Homo sapiens: one gene and its partners. The protein of the gene in region 3 interacts with the protein of the main gene of each other region in a pairwise test. Each region holds a gene or a part of one and is shown on either strand. Other genes may lie near its edges. The genes, in order: ZBTB14, ZNF438, CEP19 and CREB3L3.

Region 1 (5,726 bases), on a different chromosome or scaffold from region 3:
GAGTGCTACAGCCCTTATCTGTTCTAGTCCATATCTGTTCAGAACTGCACTTGATGTACCAGCTACCTACCTGCCACTCTCCCCAACCTGAAAATGCACAAAAGAGGGAACAAGAAAGTTTATTTTTAAAAAATCAATTCTTGGTTTAGGATTTGGGATACAGGAAGATCCTACCTCATTCTTGTTTATCCTTTCCTCTGTAGGTCTGGCGTGCTCCTGATCAGAGTTACTCTGATCTGAAGATTTTGGCGTTCAAGGCATTAAGATAATAGCCTGAGTTGTTCATGGTAACTATAACTTTGGATATTAAATCTTGATGAAAATGACTTGGCATTTGCTTTAAAATATATATACCAATTCTGATTGTGCATGAACACTTCTATTTGTCTGGGGGAAAATATTAGCCGAATAAAAGTAAAACAATGTTTTTAAAAAGGAAACATAGAGAATGCTTTAAGATGACCAGTTTTTTAACATGATGACAGAGATCTTTCATGCCAGTTCCAAATTTTTGCTTATAAAATACTCTCAGCACTTATCAAGTACTTACATCTGGTGTTGATGGCACTTTTATCTGGATGCAGGTAGATTGGCATCTAGAGAGAACAAAGCCACTTCCCAAATGTCATCTCATTCTCTTAAGGTCAGATTAAACCTTGACCTTCATTTAGAAGTGGCCCAAAAGTGCTGTGGAAAATCTAGAACACAACACTCAATGGGATATTTTGGCAGTAATGTTCCTCTCTAGTTCTGCAATAGTAATTTGTTCCTTCTGTCAAGGAGGTATAACATAATTATTTTGCTGAATCCTCCATAGAGTAGATGGAATAAGAGTAGGTGCAACAGAGAGGACTAGAGGATTGTTCCCTTGAACCTGTTTCTTAAAACTTGAGTTTGAGTTATTTGATTATCTCTAGTCAGGAAGCACTGGTTTTGCAGCCAGATTGTCTGCATTTAAGTCCCAGCTCTTCACTAAATAGCTATAGAATATTGGGCAGATTTCTAACTTTGTCTCTAAAATAAGGATAGTGATACGTACTCATGAGGTTACCTGAATATTAAATTAATTAAAACATGTAAAGCACATAGAACAATGCCTGGGATATAACTAGGCAAATACTTAGTAAATTGAAGATGAACAGGAGTAACAATATGGAGATCCTTGAGTTGGGATCAGTCTTTTCTACCCATATTCAAAGACCACTCTTAACATTGACTTTCTGAAATTGTTAGGTTCCATAGATTGACCAGGAAATGAAAATGTGACTGTGTTCTCTATATGGAAAAGTACTATTTATAATTACTAAACTTTTTTTTTTTTTGTAGGAGTTTTTCATCAGTATGTCTGAAACCATTAAATATAATGACGATGATCATAAAACTCTGTTTCTGAAAACACTAAATGAACAACGCCTGGAAGGAGAATTTTGTGATATTGCTATTGTGGTTGAGGATGTGAAATTCAGAGCACACAGATGTGTTCTTGCTGCCTGCAGCACTTACTTTAAAAAGCTTTTCAAGAAGCTTGAGGTTGATAGTTCTTCGGTCATAGAAATAGATTTTCTTCGTTCTGATATATTTGAAGAGGTCCTGAACTACATGTACACAGCAAAGATTTCCGTGAAAAAAGAAGATGTTAACTTAATGATGTCATCGGGTCAGATTCTTGGTATCCGATTTTTGGATAAACTGTGTTCTCAGAAGCGTGATGTGTCCAGTCCCGATGAAAACAATGGTCAGTCCAAAAGTAAGTATTGCCTTAAAATAAATCGCCCCATTGGAGATGCTGCTGACACCCAGGATGATGATGTAGAGGAAATCGGGGATCAGGATGACAGTCCTTCTGATGACACAGTAGAAGGCACACCCCCGAGTCAGGAGGACGGCAAGTCGCCCACCACAACGCTCAGGGTTCAGGAAGCGATCCTGAAAGAGCTGGGGAGTGAGGAAGTTCGGAAGGTCAATTGCTACGGCCAGGAAGTAGAATCCATGGAGACCCCAGAATCAAAAGACTTGGGGTCCCAGACCCCTCAAGCCTTAACATTTAATGATGGGATGAGTGAAGTGAAAGATGAACAGACACCAGGCTGGACAACAGCCGCCAGTGACATGAAGTTTGAGTATTTGCTTTATGGTCACCATCGGGAGCAGATTGCCTGCCAGGCGTGTGGGAAGACGTTTTCTGATGAAGGCAGATTGAGGAAGCATGAGAAACTCCACACGGCGGACAGGCCATTTGTTTGTGAAATGTGCACAAAAGGTTTCACCACACAGGCCCACCTGAAAGAACACCTAAAAATCCACACAGGATATAAGCCCTATAGCTGTGAGGTGTGTGGAAAATCATTTATCCGTGCCCCAGACTTAAAGAAGCATGAGAGAGTTCACAGTAATGAAAGACCGTTTGCGTGCCACATGTGTGACAAAGCCTTCAAACACAAGTCTCACCTCAAGGATCATGAAAGAAGACACAGAGGGGAAAAGCCTTTTGTGTGTGGCTCCTGCACCAAGGCATTTGCCAAGGCATCTGATCTGAAAAGGCACGAGAACAATATGCACAGTGAAAGGAAGCAGGTTACCCCCAGTGCCATCCAGAGCGAGACAGAACAGTTGCAGGCGGCAGCGATGGCTGCGGAAGCAGAACAGCAGCTGGAGACGATAGCCTGTAGCTAGAGGCGGTGGGACAGGGACACTTTGCCTGGAAAGTGGAGACTGAGATGACGTGGATCATAATGAGTGAATGCCAGTTACAATATTTTTGTGGAAACGTATGGAACATTGTACTCACTGGACTTAAGGCAGTGCTTGGTTAGCTATTTTTAAGACTTTTCAAGGAAATGGTGTTCCTCAGTTCTGACCAAACCGTTTCACTGTCTTGTCTGGTGTCTAGTATTAATGTTGCCCAGTAAGCACCTCTCTCCCTTTTTTTTTTTTATTATTTTAATTTGAGAACTCCTGTGTCCAGTTTAGAAGTGAGAGACTTCCATTTTTAGTTCCTTTACACTCACCACCCTAGCAAGTGCCCTGCACAGAGTAATAAGTAAATTGATTTCCTAATCACAATTCTATGTGACTTATGGTCAAAAGAGCAGTTTTAATAACTTTAAAAGTACTTCAGATAGACGCAGAAAATTGGTGAGTGGTTGACCAAGAACACTGCACAAATATAAAAAAAGTTCTGGAAATGCAGAATGGCGTTAGATTTATATTTGGTTTGTTAATTTTATATCACTGTTTTTCACTGTTTTTGTGGACAAATAATGGTTGCTTTGCTGAAGTGTTCTTCCTCAATCTTGATTGCCCTGTACCTACCCAAAAGCTGTAGTCACACATCCTAAAGGCCAAGCAAACCCACCGGGATGGTGGGGGGTCTTGGAGCCAAGCTCTTAGGTTCCTCTTATTTGGGGCAGTACCAGTCCATACCAGCTGCGATTTGTGAGTGGACCTGTGGTAAGAAGAATAGAAAAGGCTCTCAGAGATAAGGTTTTTTACATGTGTAACAATCCCAAGATTTCCTAGATTAAAATCTTAATTGATTTTGAAATTGGATTTTTATTTAGAATCAAAATTAGGACAAGAACAGATAACTTCTTCAGATACATTTGTGTAACTTTACAGAATGTCATCAAGCTTTGGGGCTCTGTGGGGCACATGATTTATCCATAAAGGAGATGCAGTATGCTTACTTAAATTAATAAATTTAAAATCTTTTAAGTGTGTAAATAGTAGTGTTGGTCTTACGTATTTCAAGTAAAAAGTAGACAGCTGCACTTTTTTTGCACATTGGATTAAAATAACTTCCATCAGCAACAAACATCAGACTGTTTTTAACAAATATTAAAGATTGTCAGACCAAATGTTTATGTTTTCGAAATATATTTCATCACTGGTTACAGTTTTAAATAGAAGTTGATTGCCTTTTCATAGCCGTAAATGAGAATTATAAACTCTATTCCAGTTTTGGTATACTAAATGTTCTTTTAACCATCTTTAGGAATATATTGAAATGCCAACAATAGTTTGAATTGTGTTCTGTAAAAAAGTATTAGTCAATTATTTTTCAAAATGTAGAATTGTAGAAAATGTCAATTTTTCAAACTCATTTTTCATTGCTAGGATTTCTTTTAAAAAAATTAAAGTAATTTCACTTCATAGCTTGTTGCATTAACACCTGTAATTCTATTGTGAAAGAAATTTGATTTTTTAATTGGTGTGTGTTATGCCCAAGATGTTAGGATGAAGATGCTACCTTTTTAAAAATTTTAGTTATTGGTAAAATGTTTAATTTTACTTAAAATTAATTTCTTTTCTTGAAAGTTGTTTATTCTGTTCTAAAAGTAGTCCTGTCACTGTGTTTTTATGCTACTTATAGAAGGGGAACTGATTGCCGTTCCTAGGCTGTTTTAACCAAAGCAAAGGAAAAATAATTTTAACATCTTGTCAATAGCTACTTCAACAAACCATATTTTGGGACTTCATTTTTTGTATATAAAAGAAAATATACTTCTATCATTCCTCTTTTCATTTTTTCATAGCAACCTTCCACATACCTAGATTTCTACCAAAATGTATTTTGTATGCTAGCTTCATCCTGGCTTTACAGAGTTGAAGTTAAACATGTGATATTAACCTCCTTTGAAACCACATAGTCATGGTGGTAACCCCCAAAAAGAAAGGTTAATTTTCAGCAGTCTATGTGATGCAAATATTTATCATTTAGCCTATTTTGCATGAGAAATGTATTTGTGTTATTTCTGCCACTGGTACTGGGTTTACACGTGTGTTAGGGCACCTGTTTCCTTTATATATTTTTGGTGGCAGCAGAATCCTATCATGGCAGCTCTCCTGTCTGCTGGGTCCTGGTCAGTAACACTGCCTCTCTACACCTGGCTGGATTTGGTAGTCCTCTGCATAGTGGAGCCATCGTGTTAGAGTCTTCAAGTTACCTCCAACACCCTAGGGAGTTAATTCTGAAATGTGGTTACTCTGAATCTGTAATGTAAGAGGAAGGTCAAGGCTAAGTGTCAACATTACTACCTTTTCATTACTTACAAATCATTGACTTTTTTCTGTTTTTACAGAGAATGCTACAAACTTGATGTTAGCTTTTGTGCTTAATTTGCATTGTATTGGCACTGATTGAGGAAGAGAAATTTAGGAAGTTTAAATGTAAAGTAATTTGCCGGCCATTAACTTGATCACTAATTTAGAATTGTTAGAAAATACAGAGGTCGCCATCAAGTGAGGTTGACACTAACAAATTCACCCTATTTTGTTAGGAAAAAAAAGACAAGATGAGGGAAAATGATGCAAATTTATGTAGTTTCCAACTTAATGGGTTATTTTGTGTAGTTATCTGTAAGTCATTTGGAAGGTGGGATTCATTGTCACATAGTAATGCTATTAGTGGTGTTTTGTTCTCAGGATTAGCAAGCCTTAGGGTGCAATTGTAGTAGAGCTGGCACATAGTAAGGATTGTGGTGCAGGGTTGAGTCCTAGGCGGAGGCAGAGAACTGTTACAGCAAAGAGAACGGAAAGCTCTCACTCCCTTTGAAGTCTGTCTCCATTTTTGCTTACCCTCTTGTAACTGGAGCTCTTTCCCCCTGGGAACTATTTATAATAGGGTTAATCCTGCATCTACTTAAGGTATGTAAAGATAGCATGTTGCCTACTTGTGTTGAGCATCATATGCGAGGCACTGGGCTGGACCCTGGAGATGCAAAGGC
Region 2 (8,529 bases), on a different chromosome or scaffold from region 3:
AAAAAAATACATGTCAATGTTAGAGATGGTCAGCAAAGAAACTCAAACTTATTCCAATAGGTGGAACTTTGGCATGACACACTTAAACCGGTGGAAACCTGCCTGAATACTTCACCCAACCCCTCCATCACCCTCTATTATGCAAGCTGCAACATTTCAAGCCAACTCCCTTATTTCTCTGGTGAGCCCTGTCAACACTGAGGTAATAGAACTGGAAAAACTCATCACTTCAAAAGGACAGTCAAATATCAGAATTTATTTCATTTGGTAAAAATTCTATCATTGCCAAATAAAGCTAATGCAAATATAGTAAAATATGCATGATTTTGAGTAATTCTTTTGTTGAAAAGGACTCTTGGGGAGCCTCAACTTCATCCTGCAACAGCTTAGGCATTCTTTTGCCCCTTTGCCCTTTTCATGCCCCATCTCACAAGTCATGGAAGCTGGGGAGGGGAGGGTGCAGAAAACCCAAATGAACTAATCGGCATGTATTTATGCATTTAGTCTACTCTAATTTTATTCCCACAGGTTTTTCCTCATACCCTGCTCCTCTAAGGTAAAGAACTGTTTTATTCATCTCTGAACTTCCAAAACCTAACCAAATGCCCATTATATAAAGTCATCCCTAACATCTACTACACAGCAGGCACTGGATTAGGGACTAGAGATAGAGAAGTCAAAGAGACAGACCTTGCCCCTACGGAACCTACAGTGGGGAATACCAGATACTGGCTGCATGAACCCAGTCAGGTCGTAATCAAAGACCAGTTAGCACAGTCCCACTGCCTATAATCTTTCTCCCACAGACAACCAAAGCTTAGATGAAAAACAAAAGCATGCTTTCTCTTCAGAAAAATAAATGGGTATCTCCAACCCTGACCACTCCCCTGAGTTCCATATTCACAGGCATGCATACTCAACATGTTCACTCGGAGGTGGTTACAGGGATTCAATGCATGGACTCCAAAGCCACAATGCTTAGGTTTGAATCCTAGCTACATCACTCACCAGCTGGGTGACTTCAGACAAGTCACTTATAACCTCTTTTTGCCTCTATTTTCTCGTGCTGTAAAATGGGGACAATAATGGTTCCTTGCACATATAATTCTTATGATGATTAAATGAATTAATATAGGTTAAAGTACTTAAAACCCTGCCTGGGACTCAGTTTACGCTTACATAATACTATTTTTACTAGCACTGTTGTTATGACTATGTCTAACAGGCATTTAGAACTTGTGCAAAACTAAATTTGTAATTTTCCTCAGTAAACAGCACCACTATACTTCTAGTTGTTCCAGCCTAAACCTAAAAAATCATCACTTCTCCCTTTTCTTCAAATTCCACATCAGCTCGTTTCCCGTCAGCTCTACCTTCAAAACGTATCACCAATTCTACCGCCTACCATCATCTCCACAACTAACCTCCCCCAGCCCAAACCACCATCATTTCACCTGCAGGGCACAGCAGCTTTCTCCCGATTTTCACTCCATCCGACCCACTCTAATCTACAGTTAATTCTCCATACAATAAAACTTAAATCAGACACCAGTCCCTTGATGCAAACCTTCCAATGGTTTTCCATCACAGTTAGAACAACATCTTTACTTCACCACAGCCTACAAGGGACCCCACGGCCTGCCTGGCCCTTGACCATCATTGGCCACTACTTTCCCCGTTCCCGGCTGTGCTCTAAACACTCTCACTGTGTCTGGACCACCTCAGAGCATTGTCCTGTGCTGTTCCTGCTGTGAGGCCGAAAATACAGTCACCTGGAGCCTGGACTCTGAAGTCAGACTGCCCACGTTCAAATAGTCTCTACCACGTTTTAGCTGTGCAACTTTGGCAAATTCTTAACCTTTCTGTGTGTCAGTTGCCTCATCTATGAAAGGGAGATACTAGGTTACATCAAAAGACTTGTAAAAATTTAATTTAGTGTTCAGAATAGTGCCTTACATATGGTAAGCTCTACTTTTTTTAAGTGTTCATTGCTATTAATTATTCCTCTCTGAAATGTTCTTACCTCAGGCTCTTTCCCTCACACTTCAAGTGTCCCTGCCTTTGAATGGCTTTTCCTGACAGATCCCACCAAAAACAACCTTCCCTGTTCCCCCACTGTCCTCCTTTCTTCCTTCCCTTCACTGCACTTATGACTACCTGAAATTACATTATGCACGTATTGTTCGTTGTCTATTTCCCACTGCAATATGAGCCCTGCTAGGTTGGAGGCTGTCTTCTTTGCTGCTCTATTTCCAGAGATTTCTGACTCACATCTCATCCAGGCTAGGGGACCAATGCGAATCTCCTAATAACAATAGCACACTTAGCCTTTCATTTGCACTCTCGTGATCTCATTTGATCCTGGAAAAACCAACAAACAGATAAACCATCGGCTCTCATTTTAGATAAGAAAAACAAAGTTCCAAGTTTGCGTGACTTGTCCTTGGACACGAAGCTAGTTAACGAATAGAACAAAAATTAGAAGCCCTGCTTTCTGATTCAAAGGCTCTTCCTACCTGGATGAAAAGATATCACACTCCTGAAATGAATTTACAGAAATGTGAACTCTCGAGCTCCTGTATAAATACACCCTGAAGTGTGCACAGTATTCTTCCCTTCAAAGTTCCTGAAGACTACTAGTCCCGGAGTTTGAGAGGCATTATAGTCTAGTAATAACTAATCGATAATGTAGTACCCCTTGACCAAAATATTCAAGCAGTCAGATACGATGATTGGATATTCCAAATCGATACAGCAATCCTTAAAACTCAGTGAGTCTGTGTTGTCTATAATGTGCTAGTTCCAGCACACTGAAAGCTTCCTCTGCAAAACCCAGACAACGGGGGCATTGTAATTGCCAAGAGTACCGTGCTAACGATACCTGTTATTTCTTGGGATCCCCATTCTATCAAGTTTAGTGACAACAGTTCGATCACCCAACAGGCTCCAGTGTGGTATAGAATCAGATGGAGGGAAGGTTGTCGGGGGGAGGCAAAACAGTGAAAAAGTTCCCCTTCTACAAGATTCCTGGTCAAATAGCCAGTGGCTACCACATTCCTCAGAATAACCAAGTGTCTGTGTATAAGCTTTCTCCTAGCAAATTTACACACTTGTGTTATCTCACGTGTTCCTAGTGCTGTGGGAACAACCATTAGGGAGGCCAGAGGCTGCTGTACCTCCCTTTTACACAAAAAAGAAAACTGAGGCAGCAACTGGTTATCTTATAAATGTGTCCACGATGACTTGGTCACTTGTGGGATCCCAACGGCCAGGACATAGGATTCCTATTCTCTGAGAGGAAGCTTCCATCCCCTACTTAACATGTCAAACTCCAAGGCTGAGAGGGGGAAGAAAAGGAATCTAAGTCCCTTTATCACGGAAGAAAAAAAGGGACTCTCCATTTGGACTTTCCGCCCCTTCTAAGGCCTCGCTCCCAGGCTCGGAGACGCGCCCCGCCCCAGGGGAAAAGGTGCTGGCCCGGCCCCACGGGGCGCGGCCTCGCCTCCCGCACCCCAGGTCCCTACCGCCCAGCAGGGCGCGCTGCCACTCTGAGCAGACACCTGTCCCTTCGCCACAATCGGCGACTCCCCAAGGAACTGACGCCCCCAGAGCCACCACCACCGCCGGGACTGCCAGCTGCCAGCGGGCCCCGCAAGCCCTAGGAGCTGCAGGAATCCTCGTAAACTTACAGTTTTCCTACAGCGTGCGCGTCACAGCGGGGTGACGTCACGGGCCCAGCAGTCGGGGAGGTCAAGCCACGGGGCGCGGGCCGCTGGGCCCCCAGGCTCCGCCCTCGCCCCGCCCCGGCGCCGCGGCGGGAGACACGCCCCCGAGCTCCACGCCCTCGAGCTCCACGCACCTCCCCGTAGCAGACACCCCGCGCAGGCGCAGACGGCCTCTGCGCCCGCATGCCTGTGGGCTTCGCCGACCGGGGCGCCTGCGGCGGCGACTGCTCTACCAAAGCCTCACTCAAAGCCTGAAGTCGGGGTTAGAGGAGGAGGAGGGGCCGACAAAAGGGGACGGAGACCTTCAGAAATACTGTAAACAAGCTGTCGCCCTGGGGGCTGGAGTAAGACGCCTGGGTTGTGAGGTAGTTTTTCCACAGACATTGCCCGCCTTCCTCACGTGTTCGTTAAAAGTTCTCCACGTGTGGAAACAGCCATTTGCTCTCCATCAGGTGCTGGCGGGTCCTCAGCCCTGAAAAGACAGCTCTCCCAGGGTCCCTCGCTCCTCCCCGGCTCGACGCGGCTCCCGCTAGACTCCGCCCAGACCCCGAGCAGTCCCCGCCCATCTCTTGACTATGCCCCTCCCACGCCCACTTAGGCCTTGCCCCTGGGTCCCGCCCTTCCGGCTCCCGCCCCTGGCTCCCGGCTCCCGCGGGCCCCCACCTGCCCTTCTTGCCCTGGCGCCGCCTCCAGCCCAGCCCGTTTCTTGCAGATTTTAGCTTCTCCCTTGCCTGCCGCCTTTCCCGTTTCGGCTCGGTGAAGCTACCTATGGGTTGCTGTTCATTTAACAAACGGTGATCCGGATAAACATGTTCACTTCTTCGCCTGGGCAAACTTTCCAGCCCCCGACCCACTCATGTCACGATACCTTCCCGTGTCCAAGTCCGGCTCTCTGCTCCCCACTTTTTTTTTTTTTTTTTTTTGAGACAGAGTGTTTCTCTGTCTCCCAGGCTGGAGTGCAGTGGCGCGATCTCAACTCACAGTACCCCCTGCCTCCCGGGTTCAAACGATTTTCTTGCCTCAGCCTCCTGAGTAGCTGGGATTACAGGCGCGCGCCACCACAGCCGGCTAATTTTTATGTTTTAGTAGAGACAGGGTTTCACCATGTTGGCCAGGATGGTCTCCATCTCTTGACCTCGTGATCCGCCCGCCTCGGCCTCTCAAGGTGCTGGGATTACAGGTGTGAGCCGCCGCGCCCGGCCTCTTTGCTCTTTTATACTCTCAGAAGCAATGAGTTCTGGTTAAAAAAAAGGGCTCGATAGACGGAAAAAATGAAGGCTTAAAGAACTGACAACAAAATATTAACATTTGGCTTGTGGAATTCTTACACTCTCGTAAGCAGAAAAAACAAATGTTATGGCAAAAAAGTGTCTCAGACAAATCCGTCTTGGGGGGAAAAAAATTAAAAGAATGAGAAAAACAGACTTCGGAATAAATAGACCCAAAGGAGGAAGTATTGAAAATGGCAAGATTCACTTTTACAAACTTATTTGGAACCACGGCAGATGGCCAGGGCAGGGATTTTGCAAGGCAGCTCCAGTTGTAAGTAAAACCTGAAACAATGGTTTATTTCCACTCTCATTGAAAGTGCTGTCTTATTTTTACAGGAAAGAGTGATGATGGGAATATTAGGCTTTAATTCGAGATCTGAGCTGGTTAAAAATAAAAACGTTTATTATTCCAGAAAAATCTACGTCAGTGTTTTTAAATGTTCTGATTTGAAAAAATATTTGTATATTTTATCTGAATATTAGTTATTATCAAATGATGTAAAAGAAATTTGTAAAGGCTGTACCATAATTGTAACAATAAGGTTTTTCTGTAGAGCAGAGGTATAGAAAAATTAACATTTTTTAAAGTCCTGCATATTTTTAAAACAGTGATATTTATGTTTTTCCTTGCAAAACAATTTTAAGAAACCTTTAAATTGTTAATAGTTTACATGCTTATAAAATGTTTTATATATATCATTTCTAAAAATCGTAATTTTTTTAAGTGAGTTTCTAGGTATACCTTATGGGAGTGTTTCACAGGTACATGTCATCTGTTATTTTTTGGAGTGGAAATGGGTAAGAAGCATACACCAAATGTATCAAATGTTTTTACTATAGATACTTTTGCCTCTGAAAGATGGCATTGTAGAATATAGTCTTCTCATCGTATTGTTCAGTATACTTTCTCTTGAAATCTCAGGTATTCAAAAAAAAAAGTCGTTGTTTTGCTAGATGCAGGAAAAAAGTAAACGCAGTGAACAAAAGATGGCCAACAGTAAAGGTACCCAAGCAAGGATCACAGTCTCAAGGAATGTCAAGTAGAAATTTGTGGGAAAATACCACTCACGTTCAGTCAACTTTCTGTAACAAACTGGAATTTGACCTAGACAGGAAGTGAGAAGCTAGGGCCAAAAGTGTTGTTATTAAAGAGAGGATCTGCTTTTTTAAAGAAAATAAAACCCTGGACCTTGGAGGTTTAGCACTGGAAGCACTGAGGCCCTCCACTATGGCCCTTGGGCTTTCAGTTCCCCCTTGTGATTCTTTCTCTTTGATATCTGCTGCCCATAGCAATCTGGCTTCCAGAGCCCTCTATGTCAATACACACATCTCTTCCCTTGGTCCTGCTTAGCAAGCTAAGAAAAGCTGAATTAAGACAAAACAGAGTACTTAATGTATGGGGAAAATAAAAGTGAAAGAAATATAATTCCTAATATTTCCTGAGTATTGATTCTGTGCCAAGCATTGCATTATTTCCTTGAATTCTTGCAACTAGATAAGAACTGTTACTATCCCCATTTTAAACACAAGGTAAGTAGGTTAAGTGCCCATGTCACACAGCTGCTGAGTAACACAGTCAAGATTCCAGACTTCATACTTCAGAACCCACAGCCATAACCACTAATCTGTCTCAAGTTTCATACAACCAGGCACAAATTATGCAAGAAACAGAGGGACTTAGGAAGTCCAAAATATGGACTTAGCTCTAAAATACTGACCACAGTGTATGGGTATCTTCTTCACTGTTTTCCATCCCATCTTTGCATGACTGCTTTTATTTGATTTTTTAAGGTGGTCATCATGACCCAGTAAGTTGATTTTGTGATCGGTTAAAGGGTAGCTACTCAGAAAAACACTAATCAGAATCCAAAATACAAAATATCAGATTGTATCACATGTAATAAGGGTATTTTTTTCCCAACACAAATTAGGGGAAACTTTCAGCCACATGTGTGTATTCTGGGTTGCAACGTTAAATGTATTTCATACTATGGATTTCAATCAAAAAAAATTTGAAAAACACTATTATAACCACGCCTTGCCTAACTAACATGCATCATTTATCCTTCAGGATCAAGACCAAGGGAAACAAAATCCCATTCTGCAATCCCCTTACATTCCTCTCTTAAGTCCCAGGATCTGGTTTGATGATCTCTTCCCAGGTAATTGACATAAAAATCAGGTCACTCCTGATTAGAGATAGGCCCTTGTCTCCAACTCAAACCCAAGAATATACTAATAACAACAAAATAACCATCTATAAAACAAGAGTTACACAGGTTAAAAGGGGGCTTATTCTGCCAAAGGAGCAGAGATAGAGACTTTGCTGGAAGAAGACCTGGGACAGAGATTGGAGAGCTCTGGAGGGATGTCTGTTTAATAACAGTCTTACAAGTCTGCAGTTACACAGTTTGCACAGTATTTCATCTCATTTTATCACCTCCCTTCCCTCATCATTTTACTTAGCTAATTCTCCCCAATCCTTTAGGTCTCTACTTTGCAGGAACTGACTCTGAGAAGCCTTCCCTAAGCAGCTTTGGCTCTCTGCATTGCAAATTATTTTAATTGCTTCTTCTCCTAGACTGTAAGCTCTGTGAGAATAGGGGAAATGTGAGTCTTAACCTCGAATCCTCTACATGTAGTATCCCAAATAGATTATCAGTTAATATGTGTAGAGGAATGCGTGGTGAATGGATGGATGAACTCGAATTCAAAGACTGGGTAGCTTTCTTACTCAAGATGCTAGTTATTTTCTAAAAAGGGGATACTGTCAATAGAAATAATTCTGATGAGAAAATTCCTTTAGGAGACAAGTCATTTTGAATGGCAATGCAGCATAACATAGTAAAGCACTGAACAGGGCCAGCTCTGTTATTAACTGGGTACTTTATGGCAAGTCCAGTAACTTCTGCAAGCCTCAAATGGGGTTAGACTTACTAAATATTACTTATTTATTTTTGAGACAGGCTCTTGCCCAGGCTGGAGTACAATGGAAAGACCATAGCTCACTATAACCTTGAACTCCTAGGCTCAAGGGATTCTCCCACCTCAACCTCCTGAGTAGCTGGGACTGCAGGCATGCACAACCACATCTGGTTATTTTTACTTTTCATAGAGATGACATCTGGCTGTGTTTCCCAGACTGGTCTCGAACTCCTAGCCTCAAGCAATCCTCTCGCCTGGGCCTCCCAGAGTGCTGGGATTACAGGCATGAGTCACTGCTCTGGGCCTCACTAAATGTTATCCTTGATGAATGTCCTAACAGGATGTTATCCCTCTGGTAACTCGGAAATCAGAGCAGGCCACCTGGAGCCTTATTTACATGAGGTCTCCTGAAAGACACTGACAGCCACTGGGGGATAGCAATTAATTCTCTTAAACAAAGGATGTTAGACAAAGGCTGTCCCCAACAAGAAGGGGTGGAGGGAAGCGAGGAGGGAAATGGAAAGACAAGGAACCTGTGTCCTTGTTCTGAGAAGCCCAGTTCTTGATTTGAGTACAGGGCCTGGAGCATGCTTCTGACTGTAAAACGG
Region 3 (9,478 bases):
TGTGAAACTCATTTTTTTTAAAATTAAAATACGGACTGCTTCATGAATTTGTGTGTCATCCTTGCGCAGGGGCCATGCTGATCCTCTCTGTATCATTCCAATTGTGGGGTATGTGCGCGGGAACGACCACAAAGCTCAGTTATTTTGAGAACTGCCCTGAAAGTTCAGCTTGGCCCTGGGTTAGTTTCAACCTGTTGGATCCCTAAGATCTGGTTTTTTCAAGGATATAGACTTGTTCATATGTGAATCTGGGGATGCAATCCAGTTTGAACCTCTTAGTGTACTGCACTCTTACTGAAGATCGAATATGAACCCCTAAGTCAGCCCAATAGCTGACCTATAGGGTCTTTACTATTTATCAATTAAGAAAGGGCATATCGAGCATCCTCGGTATCAAGGTACTATGATAAGGTAAGTTTTTTAACCTTAATCATTTTGTCCTGAGAGGTTCACCAATCCAGAACTGTCTCCTTTGTACTTTCCCAATTATTTTACTAGAGTTTTTTGTCATTATTTATTTAATCATCTATCTTCCCTTCTAGTCAATATGCTCCATGAGGGTGGGGGGCATATTCATTTTCCACCACAATATCTCAGCATAATACCTGGAACGTAGTGGGCATTCCATACATTGTTTAATGCTATGAATTAACATGATGGTCCCTGTACATTTTTGAAAGCATTTACAGTCTAGAAGCCTGATCAAAAAGCAGACCTGCTGCAGAATCAGCTTCTTCATATACACGTCAGTAACGTCTGCAGCTACATCATATACATCACATATCTCAGCTTCTTCATATACAATAGTCAGTAATGTCTGCAGGGCTTTTATTTTGGCCTGTGTGTCTCACTATATGATAATTTTCTAGCTACAAGAAACAGCTATTTGTAGATGAATACTTACTATTCTCTCTTCCTTTCCCCACCCTCAGTGCCCAAAGAATACACTTAACCCTAAGCACTGCTTTTGATGTGACTGTGACATTCCCAGAAAGATTTGTAAATGTCAAGAAACATTGAGGTAAAGTGGCATAGGGTGATGATATCTTCGTGAACTCAGTTCTGCTGGAGAATCACTATTAGGAACATACTTTTTATTAAATACTTAGCAGTGATTATACACGTCATTGTAGAATACTGGGGGCAAAGGAGAGGGGAAACCTATAGAAAATAATCACCCTTGATTGTGTCCAGTCTTTTTTCTAGGCATATAGTTTATAGTATGTTTCATACATACCTTATCATACAAGCTATTTCCTGACGTTCAAATTTAACAACATATATTATTATTTTGTCATCAAATGTTTTACTACAATGTAACATTTTATATGACTGCTAAATGTTTTATTTTATGGATGTACTATAATCATATTATTCACCACTTATTGTTGGGCATGAGAATTTTTACTCTTAGAAAATTAATCACATATAAGCCCAGGCACAGTGGCTCACCCCAGCCAGCACTTTGGGAGGTCAAGGTGGGCAGATCATTTGAGGTCAGGAGTTCGAGACCAGCCTGGCCAACATGGTGAAAACCACGTCTGTACTAAAAATACAAAAATTAGCTGGACATAGTGGCAGGTGCCTGTAATCCCAGCTACTCGAGAGGCCAAGGCAGGAGAATCACTTGAACCTGGGAGGCGGAGGTTGCAGTGAGCTGAGATGGTACCACTGCACTCCAGCATGGGTGACAAGAGCAAGACTCCATCTCAAAAAGATGGAGGCAGGTGTGGTGGCTCAGGCCTGTAATCCCAACACTTTGGGAGGCCAAGGAGAGGAGATACCTTGAGGCCAGGAGTTTGAGACCAGCCTGGGCAACACAGCGAGACCATGCATGTCTCTACAAAAAATTTAAAAATTGGCCAGGCATGGCAGCATGCACCTGTAGTCCCAGCCACACCAAAGGCCAAGGTGGGAGAATCGCCTGAACCCAGGAGTTTGGGGCTGCAGTGAGTTGAGATGGTGCCACTGCACAACAGCCTCTCCAAAGCATGATACGCCTATTCTTAAAAAAAAAAAAAAAAAAAAAAAAAACTACTTTAAAAAATTACTGTGCTCTACCTCTAATCTGATGCAATGAGCTCACACCATTTCTCCTTCTTTTCCTTCTCTTTTCTTGCTTTTTTTTTTTTTTTAACGAATACTATTCCCAATTCACCTAACTAAAATTTGATGTTAGTAAACTACAACCTACGGGGCACATATAAACTCCACACACTGAAGCAATGGCTGTACTCGTCAAAGATGTATGCAGTTGGTACTCAAATAATGTAGTTTTTTTTTTACTAGACTCTTTTTAAAATTTAACTTTAATTTTTGCTAAAGTAATGTTTGTATTTGGAATATAAAATAATTCTATGAGGCTTATAACAACAAACTATCGTCCTTGGCCCTACTCCTCTTCATAGGGAGCCAGACTGAATTTTAAAAGGCATATCTTCCAAAATTTCTCTCTCCATTTCTTAAGAAACATGCTTATACTACCATTTTCAGTTTTTTTTTTTCTTTTGAAACAGAGTCTCCCTCTGTCGCCTAGGCTGCAGTGCAGTGGCGTGATCTCCCCTCGCTGCAACCTCCGCCTCCTGGGTTCAAGCGATTCTCGTGCCTCAGCCTCCCGAGTAGCTGGAATTACAGGTGCCTACCACCATGCCCAGCTAATCTTTGTATTTTCAGTAGAGACGGGGTTTCGCCATCTTGGCCAGGCTGGTCTCGAACTCCTGACCTCAGGTGATTCGCCCAAAGTGCTGGGGCTATAGGCGTGAGCCACCTGCCCGGCTATTTTCAGTTTTGGATAGTATGTTTTGACATACACTCTGTTTCCTCTTTGAGACACCCGCTCTAGAGCCCTCTATTCCACTCCAAGCCGCCTGGATGCTCTCTTGGCCTGCTTACAGATTCCACTCTGTTTAGGAAGAAGGACGGCACGTTTATCCAATTATTCTTCCTGGACACGAATACTCCTCTCCCCAGAGATCAGTAACTGCCCACAATCTTGTTAGGAAGCCCCACAGCACCTAAGGGTACGAATGTCCCCAAAGAGTAGACGATTCTCTCCCTACTCACGTCTCCACTAGTGCAAGGCTGGCTTTCTTACCCTTAGAGGAATACAGAAATGACATCGTCTGCAGGCCAACGTCTAAACAACCAGGAGTGGGTTTTTCCACCCAACCGCAGTGCACGCAAAGCCCCTAAGCCGACTGTGAGACCGGGCGGAGCCTGGCGCTGCAGGAAGAGGCGACAGCCACAGCCCTACTGACGAGCCCGAGGGGTGAACTCCCCGGCGGGAGGCCCGAACCCTCAAACACCGGGAAGCGGAGGTGGGGGCCGGCTGGGGGACCGGTCCACCGGCTCCCACCTCGGCGTACAGGGATTCCAGGTCCCGGCGAGCGCTGGCCTAGCGGTTTCCACAGCGACAGGCCGGGCGCGCGTCCCCGCGCGTGCGCAGCTCCTCGCCCGCCCCCGGGTGGGCGGAGCAAGGAACAGCTGGGCGGGGACGACCGCCCCACGCCGCGCGGGAACCCTTGGGGGCCGGGGCTGCAGGCAGCTGGGAACCGCGGGCGCTAGGCGCGCGCACCCAGCACTCGGTCCCAGCCGATAAATCTGGGGCAGCGCGCGGTAGGAGCTGCGGGCGGCCAGGCCCCTTCCTGCGTCCGCACCTGGCCCCGCGCGCCCCTCTCGGGCGTCCGGCTTCCGGCGTCCTGGCGGCTCGGGTGGCGGCGGTTCGGGCGGCCGCCTGGCTGCTCCTCGGGGCGGCGACCGGGCTCACGCGCGGGCCCGCCGCGGCCTTCACCGCCGCGCGCTCTGACGCCGGTAAGGGGGGCGGGGCTTGGGGGGCCAGAGCGTGGGAGCGGTCCCGGCTCCCGGGCCTCTCGGCGGGTTGCGGGGATGTGGGGACCCGGCGCGGGACCTAGATCAGTAGGGCGAGCCGGAGGAGGTCAGACACTAGAGCCGTGTGCCCTCCTTCCCTCCCGTGCGCTTTGCTCTGCGGCGGATCCCGGGTCTCCGGGAGAGTCGGGCTCGGGCCCTGCGGTTCCCAGGCTGGACTGGCCGCCCTGTTACTAAAGTTCTGAGAAGGAAAGTCAGCCGTCAAGCGTCTTGGGATGCTCTTGAGCTGCACGAAGCTTCTGATCACCAAGGGGCCAGGCAAGGCCTTAGCGCCCTGTGAGGCCTGAGAATCCCCAAACTGAATGTAGGACTCCGTGGCAAACTGCTAGTTGTTCGTGCAAGTAGTAGTTGGCAAACTGCTTGTACTACTGAGACGGGCAAGTGCGGGAATAATTACAATAAAGGGTAAGGTTTGATGGGAGGAAAGCACAAACCCTACAAGTTTCTCCATCTGTAAAATGAGGATGTTTCTGTCATCCTTGGTATCATTTAGATCCGTTTAGTATCTGTCAATCAGTGCAGTTCTGCTTGTGTGTTTACATATTGGGTTTTCAAGTTTATCTAAACAAAGGATTATGAGGCCAAGAAGATTTTTTTTTTGAGATGGAGTCTCACTCTGTTGCCAGGCTGGAGTGCAATGGCGCGATCTCGGCTCACTGCAACCTCCGCCTTTCCCAAGTTCAAGCAATTCTTCTGCTTCAGCCTCCCAAGTAGCTGGGATTATTACAGGTGCCCGCCACCATGCCCAGCTAATTTTTTGTATTTTTAGTAGAGACGGGGTTTCGCCGTATTGGTCAAGCTGGTCTTGAACTCCTGACCTCAGGTGGTCCACCCTCCTCAGCCTCCCAAAGTGCCAGGATTACAGGTGTGAACTACCATGCTCGGCCAGAAGAATTTTTAAACAGTTGGATTTGGTAATCTGTAGAGGCTTCCAACGTTAGCATTTTATAATTGAAAAGGGGTCAAAATTAGCGGGGCGTGATGGCGTGCCCCTGTAGTCCCAGCTACTCAGGGGGCTAAGGCAGGAGAATCGCTTGAACTAGGGAGGCGGAGGTTGCAGTGAGCCGAGATCGCGCCATTGCACTCCAGCCTGGGTGACAGAGGGAGACTCTGTCTCAAAAAAAAAAAAAAAAAGGAAAAAGAAGTCAATTTCCAGAGCCAGTTCACCACTACCAAAGTAATAGTTAAGAGGAAAAATGTTGAAGGTAAATTCACATTCAACAAATTCGTTTTAAAAATGGTACTTTTGCCTTTAAAATCATGACATTCTAGTATTTGCTGTACTATTTGTAAATTAGCCTTTCTCCGGTCCCAATGATCAACTGCTGTCTGGTGTACATACCAGTAGAATTTAAGCCTGTTCATAATTTTTCTTCTAATTTAATTTATAGTTGGATAGCAGTCCTCACTTCCCACCCTACCCCCATTAAAATTAAACAGGATGAAGAAAGATCTGGATTTGTGCTGGGCACAGTGGCTCACACCTGAAATTCTAACACATTGGGAGGCTGAGGTGGAAGGATTGCTTGAGGCCAAGAGTTCAAGACCAGCCTGGAAAACATAGCAAGACCCTGTCTCTGCAAAAAAATTTAAAAGTAGCCAGGTGTGGTGGCGTGGGCCTATAATCCTAGCTACTTGGGAGGCCGATGTGGGAGGATTGCTTGAGCTCAGAAGTTCAAGGCTGCAGTGAGCTGTGATCATGCCACTGCATTCCAGCTTGTGTGACAGAGTAAGGCCCTGTCTCTTTTTTTTTTTTTTTTTTTGAGACGGAGTCTTGCTCTCTTGCCAGGCTAGTGCAGTGGCGCAATCTCGGCTTATTGCAACCTTCACCTCCCAGGTTCAAGCGATTCTCCTGCCTCAGCCTCCCAAGTAGCGGGAACTACAGGTGCACACCACGACGCCCGGCTAATTTTTTGTATTTTAGTAAAGACGGGGTTTCACCATGTTGGCCAGGTTGGTCTTAAACTGTTGACCTTGTGATCTGCCTGCCTCCCCCTCCCAAAGTGCTGGGATTACAGGCATGAGTCACTGCACCCAGGCTATTTGTTCTTTTTTTTAAGAGGCAGAGCCTTGCTCGGCTGGGCGCTGTGGCCCATGCCTGTAATCCCAGCATTTTGGAAGGCCAGGGTGGGCAGATCACCAGGTCAGGAGATCGAGACCAGCCTGGCCAACGTGGTGAAACTCCATCTCTACTAAAAATACAAGAATTAGCCGGGCGTAGTGGCGCGTGCCTGTAGTCCCAGCTACTCTGGAGGCTGAGGCAGGAGAATTGCTTGAACCTGGGAGGCAGAGGTTGCAGTGAGCCAAGATCGTGCAACTGCAGTGCAGCCTGGCAACAGAGTGAGACTCCGTCTCAAAAAATAAATAAATAAATAAATAAAAATAAAAAAAGAACAAATAAAAATCTGGATTGGTACAAGATACATATGGAATTTGGGGATTTGTTTATTCAGGAAAAGATCATATGCTTCTCCAAAGCAAATACAATTTCTTTTTTGAGGGCTGGAGATTTTTCAGTGAAATGTAACTAGACAAATTCTCGAAGAGCTGTAACACTAAAATTTCATTCAATTTTAGTGTTGAAAGTGGAAGTATCTTAGGCTTTAAAAATCAGGCAAACCTTTCTTCTAATCGGTCACGTAGTTAGTTGTATGACCCAGGGCCATTTACTAATGCTTTAGAAGTTCAAGTTTCCTCCTGCAAACAAATGGCAGTGATTTTGCTTATTTTGCTATAGATCGTGAAAGTTAAAACACATATGAAAGCACCAAGTAGAGGATCTAGCATGTTAGATATTATTTAACCAGTTATTTTTTTCTATTCTTTTTTCATTCCTTCAAATAGTTTCACCTTCACATCATTTTTCTTAATGCATCTTTTCAGAAATACATCTAATGGATTCAGCAATATTCAATGATAATAACAGGATTATGTAAATAATATATAGTTTTCTGTATGTGTTTGGGGTTTGTTTGTTTGTTTTGAGACAAGGTCTGGCTTTGTCACCCAGGCTGGAGTGCAGTGGTGCAGTCTCTGCTCACTGCAGCCTCCCTCTGCCTCCTGGCCTCAAGCCATGCTCCCACCTCAGCCTCCTAAGTAGCTAATTTTTGTATTTTTCTTAATGGAGATGGAGTCTTGCTATGTTGTCCAGGCTTGTGTGTGTTTTTTAAATGTTCTTCCCACAGATTTACAGCTTTTGAAATGGGACAAAGTTCCATAGCAAATGCCTGGCAGAGTTGCTGGTCAATAGTAACTGAATTTTCAGTTTTAAGATGCTTACATTGAGTAATAGTTTTCTTTTTTTGTGTTTAGAGACAAGGTCTCTCTCTGTCACCCAGGCTTGAGTGCAGTGGTATAATCATAGCTCACTGAAGCCCCCATCCCCTGGGTTCAAGCAATCCTCCCACCTCAAGTGCGAGCTGGCACACCTGGCTCAGAGTAACAGCTTGAGTGTCTGGAATCTGGATGAAGTCAGTATACTGAGATTTGTGCTTATTCTAAGTTTACAGTGGAACCCGTTGAACCTTTACGTGCCTCCAGCTTTGCTTTTTGTTTTTTTTTTAAACCTTCCAGCATCTCCACAAGGCATAAATGTACCATTTTCCTGGTTTTGTAGGCATGGATGTTAGAATATAGAAGTTGCCAGTATGTATCTATCTGATACACAGTTTCAGTGAACAAGGATTAAAATGGAGATTTCCTGGCTCTTTAGCCATCCTGTTCCTTTTTGGTATCTTGGGATCACCTGAATAAAGTAATATTAATAAAAAACACTTACATAGAACACTTAATATGTATTCTTACTACTGTTCTAAGTGCTTCTACTTACATTAAATTCTTACGACAGCTAGTAGAGAGATAAACTATCTTGCCCAAAGTTAACACAGCTGTTAAGTTACAGACTGGGATTTGAAATCAGGCAATCTAACTCCAGAGTCACTGTTCTTAACCACAGTGCTATATTGGAAGTAGATTTATATATATATTTCAAATTGCTTAAATTTTAAAAGGTTTTGTTTTTAGGTTGGTTAGATTTTCTAGGCAAGTAAAGCCTACTAAAATAACTCTTTTATAATTATTTAAATATTATTTTATTCAGTGCTTTTGTTTTTAAAAAAAAATCGTTTGGTTCTTATAGGCATAAGGGCCATGTGTTCTGAAATTATTTTGAGGCAAGAAGTTTTGAAAGATGGTTTCCACAGGTAAGTTGCCTGTTGATTTCTATTTCTATTAAAATAATGTGTCATATAATTGAGAGCAAAAAATTGATGGTTGAAATTTGTATAAATTGAAAAATCAGGCCAGATGCGGTGGCTCTCATCTGTAATCCCAACACTTTGGGAGGCCGAGGCAGGCGGATCACAAGGTCAGGAGTTTGATACCAGCCTGGCCAACATAGTGAAACGCTGTCTCTACTAAAAATACAAAAATTAGTTGGGCATGATGGTACACACACCTATAGTCCCAGCTACTTCAGAGGCTGAGGCAGGAGAATCACTTGAACCCGGGAGGTGGAGATTGTGGTGAGCCGAGATCATGCCACTGCACTCCAGCCTGGGCAACAGAGTGAGACTCTGTCTCAAAAAAAGAAAAAAGAAAAATCACTTGCTTCCTCAAAGTTACTCAGTGATGGCATATGTGGTTCACACTTTGAAATAATGATTAACTGAGTGGAGCAAAGAAGAAAACAAGTATGTATTGTTTACCACGTACAGTTGTCCCTTGGTATCTGAGGGGATTGGTTCCTCCTGGACCTCCCCTGAGGACACCAAAGTCCTCAGATGCTCAAGTTCCCTATATCAAATGGCATAGTACTTGTATAGAACCTACACACACCCTCTCATATACAGAGGTTGTTATATATATACAACTAGTGCCTATATATACAATATTCCATTTAATCTTCACAGTGGCATGAGATAGATGATTTTTTCTTATTTTTCAGATGAGGGAGGTAGAGCTCAAACAATTTAAATAATTTGGTAGAAATTAGGGTGATAGAGCTCTGACTCTAGCTTAGTACTATTATACTTCAAAGCCATCTCAAGTACTATGATACACTGCTCTAAATCACTATGTCTTACTACAGTTGATTCTAAATGACCAAGCTGTTTCCAAAAAAGAAATTATCTTCAAAAGATGAATATTTGCCCATATTGAAGATCTTTAAAAGTCTGGTAAAAAGGTGTGGAAACTGTTCCTTAAGAAAACTTGCCCAAACTGAAGCTTCGCAAGGTGATTATTTTGAAATGATTCTCAGATACTTAATATGTAAATTCTGATTCATTTATTTTTTTTTAATTTTTTTATGCTGGGCACGGTGGCTCATGCCTGTAATCCCAGCACTTTGGGAGGTCGAGGACCCCGGATCACGAGGTCACGAGTTCGAGACCAGCGTGGCAAACACGGTGAAACCCCATCTCTACTAAAAATACAAAACATTAGCCAGGCGTGGTGGTGGGCGCCTGTAATCCCAGCTACTCAGGAAGCTGAGGCAGTAGAATCGCTTGAACCCGGGAGGCAGAGGTTGCAGTGAGCCGAGATTATGCCACCGCACTTCAGCCTGGCAACAGAGCGAGGCAAAACTCCGTCT
Region 4 (8,496 bases), on a different chromosome or scaffold from region 3:
CAGCTACTCGGGAGTCTGAGGAAGGAGATTCTGAACCCGTAAGACGGAGGCTGCAGTGAGCCGAGATCACGCCACCGCACTCCACCCTAGGCAACAGAGCAAGACTCCATCTCAAAAAAAAAAAAAAAAGAAAAAAAGAAAAACAAAAGAGCCAGGCACGGTGGCTCAGGCCTGTAATCCCAGCACTTTGGGAGGCCAAGGCGGGCAGATCACCTGAGGTCGGGAGTTTGAGACCAGCCTGACCAACAGGGAGAAACCCCGTCTCTACTAAAAATTCAAAATTAGCCAGGCATGGTGGCACATGCCTGTAATCTCAGCTACTCGGGAAGCTGAGGCAGGAGAATCACTTGAACCTGGGAGGTGGGGGTTGCGGTATGCCAAGATCACACCATTGCACTCCAGCCTGGGCAAAACAACAGCGAAACTCTGTCTAAGAAAGAGAGAGAGAGAGGAAGGAAGGGAGGAAGGGAGGAAGGGAGGGAGGGGGAGAGAGAGAGAGACAGAGAGAGAGGGGGGGAGAGAGAGAGAGAGAGAGAGAGAGAGAGAGAGAGAGAAACGAGAGAGAGAGAGAAAGAAAGAGAAAAAAGGGCCGGGTGTGGTGGCTCACGCCTATAATCCCAGCACTTTGGGAGGCCAAGGCAGGTGGATCACCCGAGGTCAGAAGTTCAAGACCAGCCTGGCCAACATGGTGAAACCCCATCTCTACTAAAAACACAAGAAATTAGCCGAGCGTGGTGGCGGCTGCCTGTAATCCCAGCTACTCGGGAAGTTGAGGTAGGAGAATCACTTGAACCTGGGATGCGGAGGTTGCAGTGAGCCAAGATCGCGCCATTGCGCTCCAGCCTGGGTGACAAGAGTGAAACTCTATCTCAAAAAAAAAAAAAGAGAGTAAAAGAAAGAGGGAGAAAGGAAGGAAAAAAGGAAGGAAGGAAGGAAGGAAAGAGAAAAAGAGAGAGAAAAGAAAGAAAAAAAAGAAAGTGGGCCGGGCGCGGTGGCACACGCCTGTAATCTCAGCACTTTGGGAGGCTGAGGTGGGTGGATCACAAGGTCAGGAGTTCAAGACCAGCCTGGCCAGGATAGTGAAACCCATCTCTACTAAAAATACAAAAATTAGCCAGGTGCAGTGGCGGGCGCCTGTAATCCCAGCTACTTGGGAGGCTGAGGCAAGAGAATCGCTTGAACCCGGGAGGCAGAGGTTGCAGTGAGCCGAGATGGCACCACTGCACTCCAGCCTGGGCAACAGAGCGAGACTCCTTCAAAAAAAAAAAAAAGAAGAAGAAAGAGAGAAAGGAAGGAGAGGAAGGAGAAGAGAACCGAACCTAGCCAGGGAGATGCCCCAAGTTTGAGTTTGAACCTAACTCCAAATTGCTGTGTGACTTTGGATGAGTTTCCACCCTGCTCTGGGCCTCCATTCCCCACCTGTAAGAAGGAGCTGATGCTACCCGCTAAATGATGTGCTTGGCTAAAATCAAGCACCGTGACCCATTAGTGCATCGTAGAGCTGAGCAGAGCTCTGGCTGGGCTCTGGCGGGTCTAGCACCTTCGTGGGGCCTCAGTTGGCCCGCCTGGAGCTCTGTGGTCCCGGGGCAACTGCAGTGGACTCCTCACCTGGTCCTTGACGTGACCCCAGCCCTCGCCCAGCTCCACGTGTCTCAGGATGCCGTCCTGCCGGTCAAACAGGAGATCCAGGAGCTCAAAGCTGTCGATGGGGTCCATGGAGCAGGCAGCAGAAGCCATCTGGGGCGCGAGGAACAGATGTGAGGGTCACATACAGCCCCTGTCCTCCCCACCTCCCATGTGCACATAACCCTGGCTCTTTCCGGCTAGAGTTCAGTTGCCGCTCTGCCTCCGGGTTGGGCCAGCTGCTGCCCCTCGCTGAGACTCCCTTTCCAAATCTGGACTTTGAGGCTGATAGAGAGAATTCCACAGTGTGAGAGCCAATTTCTCTTAAAGTGCTGGAGAGGCTGGATGTGGTGGCTCATGCCTGTAATCTCAGCACTTTGGGAGGCCGGGGCAGGAGGATCACTTGAGCCCAGGAGTTCAAGACCAGCCTGCGCAACATAGAGACCCCTATCCCTACTGCAAATAATTTAAAAAAATTAGCTGGCTGCGGTGGCACACACTTGTCGTCCCAGCTACTGGGGAGGCTGAGGTAGGAGGATCCCTTGAACCCAGGAGGTTGAGGCTGCAGTGAGCTATGGCCACCCCACTGCACTCCACCCTGGGTCACAGAGCAAGACCTTGTTTCAAAAAACAAAAAAGTATGGCAGGCACGGTGGCTCACATCTGTAATCCCAGCACTCTGGGAAGCCGAGGCGGGCAGCTCACCTGAAGTCAGGAGTTTGAGACCAGCCTAGCCAACATGGTGAAACCCTGTCTCTAGGAAAAGTACAAAAATTAGCCGGGCGTGGTGGTGCACACCTGTAATCCCAACTACTTGGGAGGCTGAGGCAGGAAGATCTCTTGAACCCAGGAGGTGGAAGTTGCAGTGAGCTGAGATCGTGCCATTGCACTCTAGCCTGGGTGACAGAGGGAGACTCCATCTCAAAAAATAAAAATAAAAATAAAATAAAATAAAATAAAAAGTGCTGGAGAGAGGCCCTAGCTAGAGATGCCGCTTGCCTCTCAGGCCTTCACAGCCTCCCCAAGTGCCCGCTCCTAGGAGGCAGGGGGACCTGGAAGAAAGACAAGGGCAGCCCCGGGGCAAAGGCACACAGTTTTGCTCATTGCATCCTTTCTCTGGGCCTCAGTCTTCCCATCTGTACAATAGGGGTGGAGATGGGGTCCTTCCAGCTCTGGCAGCTTGGGTAGGCTTTCCCAGCCTAGACTCCCGCTCTCCCTGGGGACCTAGTAGGGCTCACCTTTCCAGCAGCTAAATCCGTATTCATGGGTCCATCCAGTTCTGTCTGCAGATGCCTCGGGGGGTCTCTGCTCCAAGCTGGAGGCCCACCCACCGCCAGCGTTACCTGGGGCCGGGCAAGCTCACAGCCCTCTGTGGCTCTGTCACCACTCCCAAAAGATGCTGAAGCGGTCACAGGCAGCTCCCAGCCCACCTCCAGGTGCTGATTGGTGGACAGGGTGGAGAGACAGGGTTGAGGGCCAGTGACACTGGGGCAGGCAGGAGCAGGGGAGGGAAGACCGTTATCTGGGTGTTTTGTGGTTTTCCAGCCCTCAGTGAGCAAAGGTCGAAGTCTGGGGTACCTCCACTCTGCCGTGACCTCTGCCCTACTTATGAGGACTTTTTCTTTTTTTCTTTCTTTTTTGAGACGGAGTCTCGCTCTGTGGCCCAAGCTGGAGTGCAGTGGTGCCATCTCATTTCGGCTCACTGCAACCTCTGCCTCTTGGGTTCAAGTGATTCTCCTGCCTCAGCCTCCCGAGTAGCTGGGACTACAGGTCCCCATCACCATGCCCGGCTAACTTTTGTATTTTTAGTAGAGACGAGGTTTCATCATGTTTTCCAGGCTGGTCTCGAACTCCTGACCTCGTGATCGGCCCCTCAGTCTCCCAAAGTGCGGGGATTACAGGCGTGAGCCACCGCACCCGGCCAGTTACAGGACTTTTTCTCTTCAGAATTCCCAGATGGGTTCTGGGATAGCCCAGGGCCCTTACATGGGTCCTGTCCACTCCCTGGACAGAAACAAACCAAGAGGACCAGACCAGATCTTCACTGAAGCCAGTTTTCCTGCCAGCAGCTAGCGGCTCCCATCCTTCACCCCACCTGCCAACCTCCGGCCCCCAGCCCCCTCCGAAACCAGCTTGGACTCCGCCTCTGAGTCCCCATGGGTGATTCTGTGCAATCAATTCTCTCTAGAATCTTCTATCGTTCATTGAGTCAACAAATATTTATGGAGCCAAACTGGTTCCTGCTTAGGGCCTTTGCACCTACTCACCTGCTCGCCCCTCTGCCTGGAACTCTCCTCTTGTACCCTCCCTCTTCCCCTCTGGCTCTAGGTCACTGTATTGACATTTTAGTGAATGTTCGATATTTGTGAATCAGCCCGGGTGGCTGAGAGGTGTCTCTGACCTCCCCTCCACCCCCTACCAAGAGAGAGGAGCCCTGTTTTGTTTTTTTGTTTTTTTTTTTGGTGTTGGTGGAGGACAGGGTCTCACTCTATTGCCCAGGCTGGAGTGCAGTGGCAGGATCATAGCTCACTGCAGCCTCCAACTCCTGGGTTCAAGTGATCCTCCCGTCTCAGCCTCCCAAGTAGCTAGGACTGCAGGCGTGCACCACCACACCTGGCTAATTTTGTTTTTTTTTTTTTATAGAGATGGGGTCTTACTGTGTTGGCCAGTATGGTCTCAAACTCCTGGGCTCAAATGATCCACCTGCTTCAGCCTCCCAAAGTGCTGGATTTACAGGCATGAGCCACTGTGCCCAGGCAAAGTCCCCCTTTAGCAGATGACATATTAGACCAAGCGTGGTGGCTCACATCTGTAATGCCAGCACTTTGGGAGGCCGAGGTGGGTGGATCACCTGAGGTCAAGAGTTTGAGACCAACCTGGCCAACATGGTGAAACCCCATCTGTACTAAAAATATAAAAATTAGATGGGTGTGGTAGCACATGCCTGCAATACCAGTACTCGGGAGGCCGAAGCAGGAGAATCACTTGAACCCAGGAGGCGGAGGTTGCAGTGAGCTGAGATCACACCACTGCACTCCAACCTGGGCGACAGTGAGACTCTGTCTCAAAAAAAAAAAAAATGACATGTTCAGTGCAGTCCTGAAGGATGAGATGGAACTGGCCCTGGGAAGGTCTGGGGAAAGGTGTCCCAGGCAGAGGCACAGTTTGTGCAAAGGCCCTGAGGCAGGTCCGTGCCTAGCGCATTGGAGGAACAGCAATGAGACCCCTGTGGCTGGAGCAGAGTGAGGAGAGGAAGACAGGCAGGAGAGGAAGACAGGGAGGAGGGGAAGGCAGGGAGGAGGGGAAGGCAGGGAGGGGACGGGGCAGGTCGTGCAAAGCCCTGTGTGTTGTGGCAAGGAGTTTGGTTTGTGCTAAACAGCAGGGCACTGTTGGAAGTTTAGCAAATAGGAGACTAAATCAAGCTTTCTGTTTGCTGGACACTGTGCCATGTGCTAGGTTGAGAGGGGTAATTTATGTGCCCTCCTTGCTCTAAAAAAATTCACATCCTGGTTCCCTTCCCCTTCCTTCCTTCCTTTCCTTCCTTCCTTCCTTCCTTCTCTCCCTCCCTCCCTCCCTCCTTCCTTCCTTCTTTCCTCTCTCTTTTTTTCTCTTTTCTCTCTCTATCTTTCTTTCTCTCTTTCTTTCTTTCTTTCTCAAGACAGAGTCTCGCTCTGTCGCCCAGGCTGGAGTGCAGTAGCACAATCTCAGCTCACTGCAACCTCCACTTCCCAGGTTCAGGCGATTCTCCTGCCTCAGCCTCCTGAGTAGCTGGCATTACAGGCTCCCACCACCACACCCAGCTAATTTTTGTATTTTTGGTGGAGATGGGGTTTCACCATGTTGGCCAGGCTGGTCTTGAACTCCTGAATTCAAGTGATTCACCCGCCTTGGCCTCACAAAGTGCTGGGATTACAGGCATGAGCCACCACGCCCGGCCTGGTTTATATTTTTCAATGGATCACTCATATGTATTCATGAAATCAAAATTCAATAAGGGGCTACCATATGCCACACACGATATGGTTCTTTTATCCAACACTAACTCACATTACTGCACTTGCCCTCCACTAGGGCAGACTGGAGTGCAGTGCTGTGATCAAAACTCATTGCAGCAGGCCGGGCACAGTGGCTCATGCCTGGAATCCCAGCACTTTGGGAGGCCGAGGTGGGTGGATCACGAGGTCAGGAGATTGAGACCATCCTGGCTAACACGGTGAAACCCTGTCTCCATTAAAGATACGAAAAAAAAAATTAGCCGGGCGTGGCGGTGGGCGCCTGTAGTCCCAGCTACTCGGGAGGCTGAGGCAGGAGAATGGCGTGAACCTGGGAGGCGGAGCTTGCAGTGAGCCGAGATCGGTGCCACTGTTCTCCAACCTGGGTGACAGAGCGAGACTCCATCTCAAAAAAAAAAAAAAAAACTCACTGCAGCCTCAACCTTCCGGACGGAAACTCAGGACACTCACTGTGCAATGTCTGGGACATCTGTGGTTGTCACGAGTGCGAGATGCTCCTGGCATAGAATGGGTGAAGGCCAGAGATGCCGTTCAGCACCCTACAGTGCCCAGGACGGCCCCACCCCAGAAAGCAATCCTGCCCCACAGCCACGGGATCTGGGGGAGAAAGACTGCATTAATTATTTGGGAAAAAATTGAGTGGGTTCCCTGCTCACACCAGACACCAGAATAAACTCCCAACAGGGCAGACGGTATAAACCAGGGGAACCCCAGATCCTGGGATTCACCTCCTCCCTCCTTCCCCATTCAGGGCATGGATTTCAATGTGTGCAGCCTCCTGGGACCTCAGCAGGGCAGAGCATCACGGGATACAGTCTCTTGGGGGTCCATGGAATCCCCTAACCCAGGGGAGCTCACCCAGGGTGATTTTACACTCCCCCGAGGACACTGGGTGATGTCTGAGGACATCTGTGGTTGTTACAACAAAGGGGGGTGGCCCTGGCGCGGGGTGGGTGGAGGCCAGGGACACTGCTCAGCAACCTCCAGTGCCCAGGATGGCCCCACCCCATAGAAGGATCCGGGTCCCCAAGCTCCACGGGGCCCAAGAAGAGACCCCGATAACGGTACCTGTCCCTGTCTGGGTGCTACTAGAATTATCTCGCCCTTGACCTCTACATTTTTCTGATCTCCTTTTATCTGCTCTGTGTTGGATTTTAGAGGGGTTGTTTGCCTTGGCTTGGCTTTAGTGATCCCAGTCATAATATTTATTCAGCATTTGCCGTGGAGGCTTTTTTCCAGGGCCATCACAGTGGGTGGATCAAGTAGGTGATGTTTGACTTCTGGACTCCTCTCTGCCTCTCCTCACCCCGTTTATCACTCTTGGGAGTTCTAGTGCCCTCGAGAGAGATCACTCCCCCTTCTCTTATCAAAACCTGCTGGAGCCGGGCACCGTGGCTCATGCCGGTAATCCAAGCCCTTTGGGAGGCTGAGGCGGGAAGATTGCTCAAGCCCTGGAGTTCCCGATCAGCCTGGGCAATAGAGCAAGACCTCATAACTACAAAAAAGTTTAAAAAATTAGCCAGGCAGCATGGCCAACATGGTGAAACCGCGTCTCTACTAAAAATACAAAAATTAGCCAGATGTGGTGGCGGGCACATGTAATCCCAGCTACTCGGGAGGCTGAGGCAGGAGGATCACTTGAACCCAGGAGGTGGAGACTGCAGTGAGCCGAGATCATGCCACTGCACCCCAGCCTGGGTGACAGAGCAAGACCCTCTATCAAAAAGAAAAGGGCCGGGCATGGTGGCTCACGCCTGTAATCCCAGCACTTTGAGAGGCCAAGGCGGGCGGATCGCGAGGTCAGGAGATCGAGACCATCCTGGCTAACACGGTGAAACCCCGTCTCTACTAAAAATACAAAAAATTAGCTGGGCATGGCGGTGGGCACCTGTAGTCCCAGCTACTCGGGAGGCTGAGACAGGAGAATGGCGTGAACCCAGGAGGCCGAGCTTGCAGTGAGCTGAGATCGCGCCACTGCACTCCAGCCTGGGCGACAGAGCAAGACTCCGTCTCAAAAAAAAAAAAAAATTAGCCAAGCATGGTGGTGCACACCTGTAGTCCCAGCTACTTGGGAGGCTGAGGCAGGAGGATCGCTTGAGCCTGGGAGTTTGAGGCTACCATGAGCTGTGACTGCACCACTGCACCAGCCTGGGCCACAGGGCGAGACTTTTTCTCAAAAATAACAATACTTATTATTATGAACTTTAGAAGCCTTTTGTACACCTCAATGAAGGGATTTCAGGTATCTGTTAACAGGGAGGATAAGAATAAGCACTTGGCCCGCATGGTAGCTCACGCCTGTCATCCCAGCACTCTGGGAGGCCGAGGTGGGCGGATCACCTGAGGTCAGGAGTTTGAGACCAGCCTGCCCAACATGGCGAAACCCTGTCACTACTAAAAAATACAAGAATTAGCTGGGCGTGGTGGCACTCGCCTGTAATGCCAGCTACTCAGGAGGCTGAGGCTGGAGAATCACTCGAACTTGGGAGGCAGAGGTTGCAGTGAGCCGAGATCACGCCACTAAATTCCAGCCTGGGCCACAGAGAAAGCTTCTGTCAAAAAAAAAAAAAAAAAGAAGAAGAAGAAGAAGAAAAAGAAGCTCTTGTGGGGACAGAAGGACTTTTCACTGCCATTGACCTCATAGCAGTTTATCCACTGAACACGACTACGTATCTCAAAGGGACAATAACTTGGAATCTAAAGTAAAATTCCTGCAGTCATTTTCAGCAATGTGTTTAAGTACATGTTCCCTCTGTAGACTCTCTGTCACTTTATTGCTAACACATCATTGTTTGTTTGTTTGTTTGTTTGTTTGTTTTGATACAAGGTTTCACTCTGTCGCTCAGGCTGGAGTGCAGTG

The links.
Region 1: the proteins of CEP19 (region 3) and ZBTB14 interact in binary tests that used the Homo sapiens proteins (3 or more experiments, as listed by UniProt).
Region 2: the proteins of CEP19 (region 3) and ZNF438 interact in binary tests that used the Homo sapiens proteins (3 or more experiments, as listed by UniProt).
Region 4: the proteins of CEP19 (region 3) and CREB3L3 interact in binary tests that used the Homo sapiens proteins (3 or more experiments, as listed by UniProt).

The regions. Positions count from the first base shown.
Region 1 is NC_000018.10:5,287,805-5,293,530, reverse strand, and holds the end of ZBTB14 (zinc finger and BTB domain-containing protein 14), read left to right. Parts: intron 1-203; 5' UTR 204-284; coding exon 285-287; intron 288-1,326; coding exon 1,327-2,673; 3' UTR 2,674-4,509; downstream 4,510-5,726. UniProt on the Homo sapiens protein: Transcriptional activator of the dopamine transporter (DAT), binding it's promoter at the consensus sequence 5'-CCTGCACAGTTCACGGA-3'. Binds to 5'-d(GCC)(n)-3' trinucleotide repeats in promoter regions and acts as a repressor of the FMR1 gene.
Region 2 is NC_000010.11:31,028,144-31,036,672, forward strand, and holds the start of ZNF438 (zinc finger protein 438), read right to left. Parts: upstream 3,723-8,529; 5' UTR 3,690-3,722; intron 1-3,689. UniProt on the Homo sapiens protein: Isoform 1 acts as a transcriptional repressor.
Region 3 is NC_000003.12:196,708,835-196,718,312, forward strand, and holds the start of CEP19 (centrosomal protein of 19 kDa), read right to left. Parts: upstream 3,417-9,478; 5' UTR 3,120-3,416; coding exon of another isoform or gene 3,095-3,119; intron 1-3,094. Other genes in the region: PIGX (GPI alpha-1,4-mannosyltransferase I, stabilizing subunit isoform 1 precursor), read left to right, coding at 3,699-3,810, 8,024-8,087. UniProt on the Homo sapiens protein: Required for ciliation. Recruits the RABL2B GTPase to the ciliary base to initiate ciliation.
Region 4 is NC_000019.10:4,148,140-4,156,635, reverse strand, and holds the start of CREB3L3 (cyclic AMP-responsive element-binding protein 3-like protein 3), read right to left. Parts: upstream 3,006-8,496; 5' UTR 2,889-3,005; coding exon 2,862-2,888; intron 1,738-2,861; coding exon 1,609-1,737; intron 1-1,608. UniProt on the Homo sapiens protein: Transcription factor that may act during endoplasmic reticulum stress by activating unfolded protein response target genes. Activated in response to cAMP stimulation. In vitro, binds to the cAMP response element (CRE) and box-B element.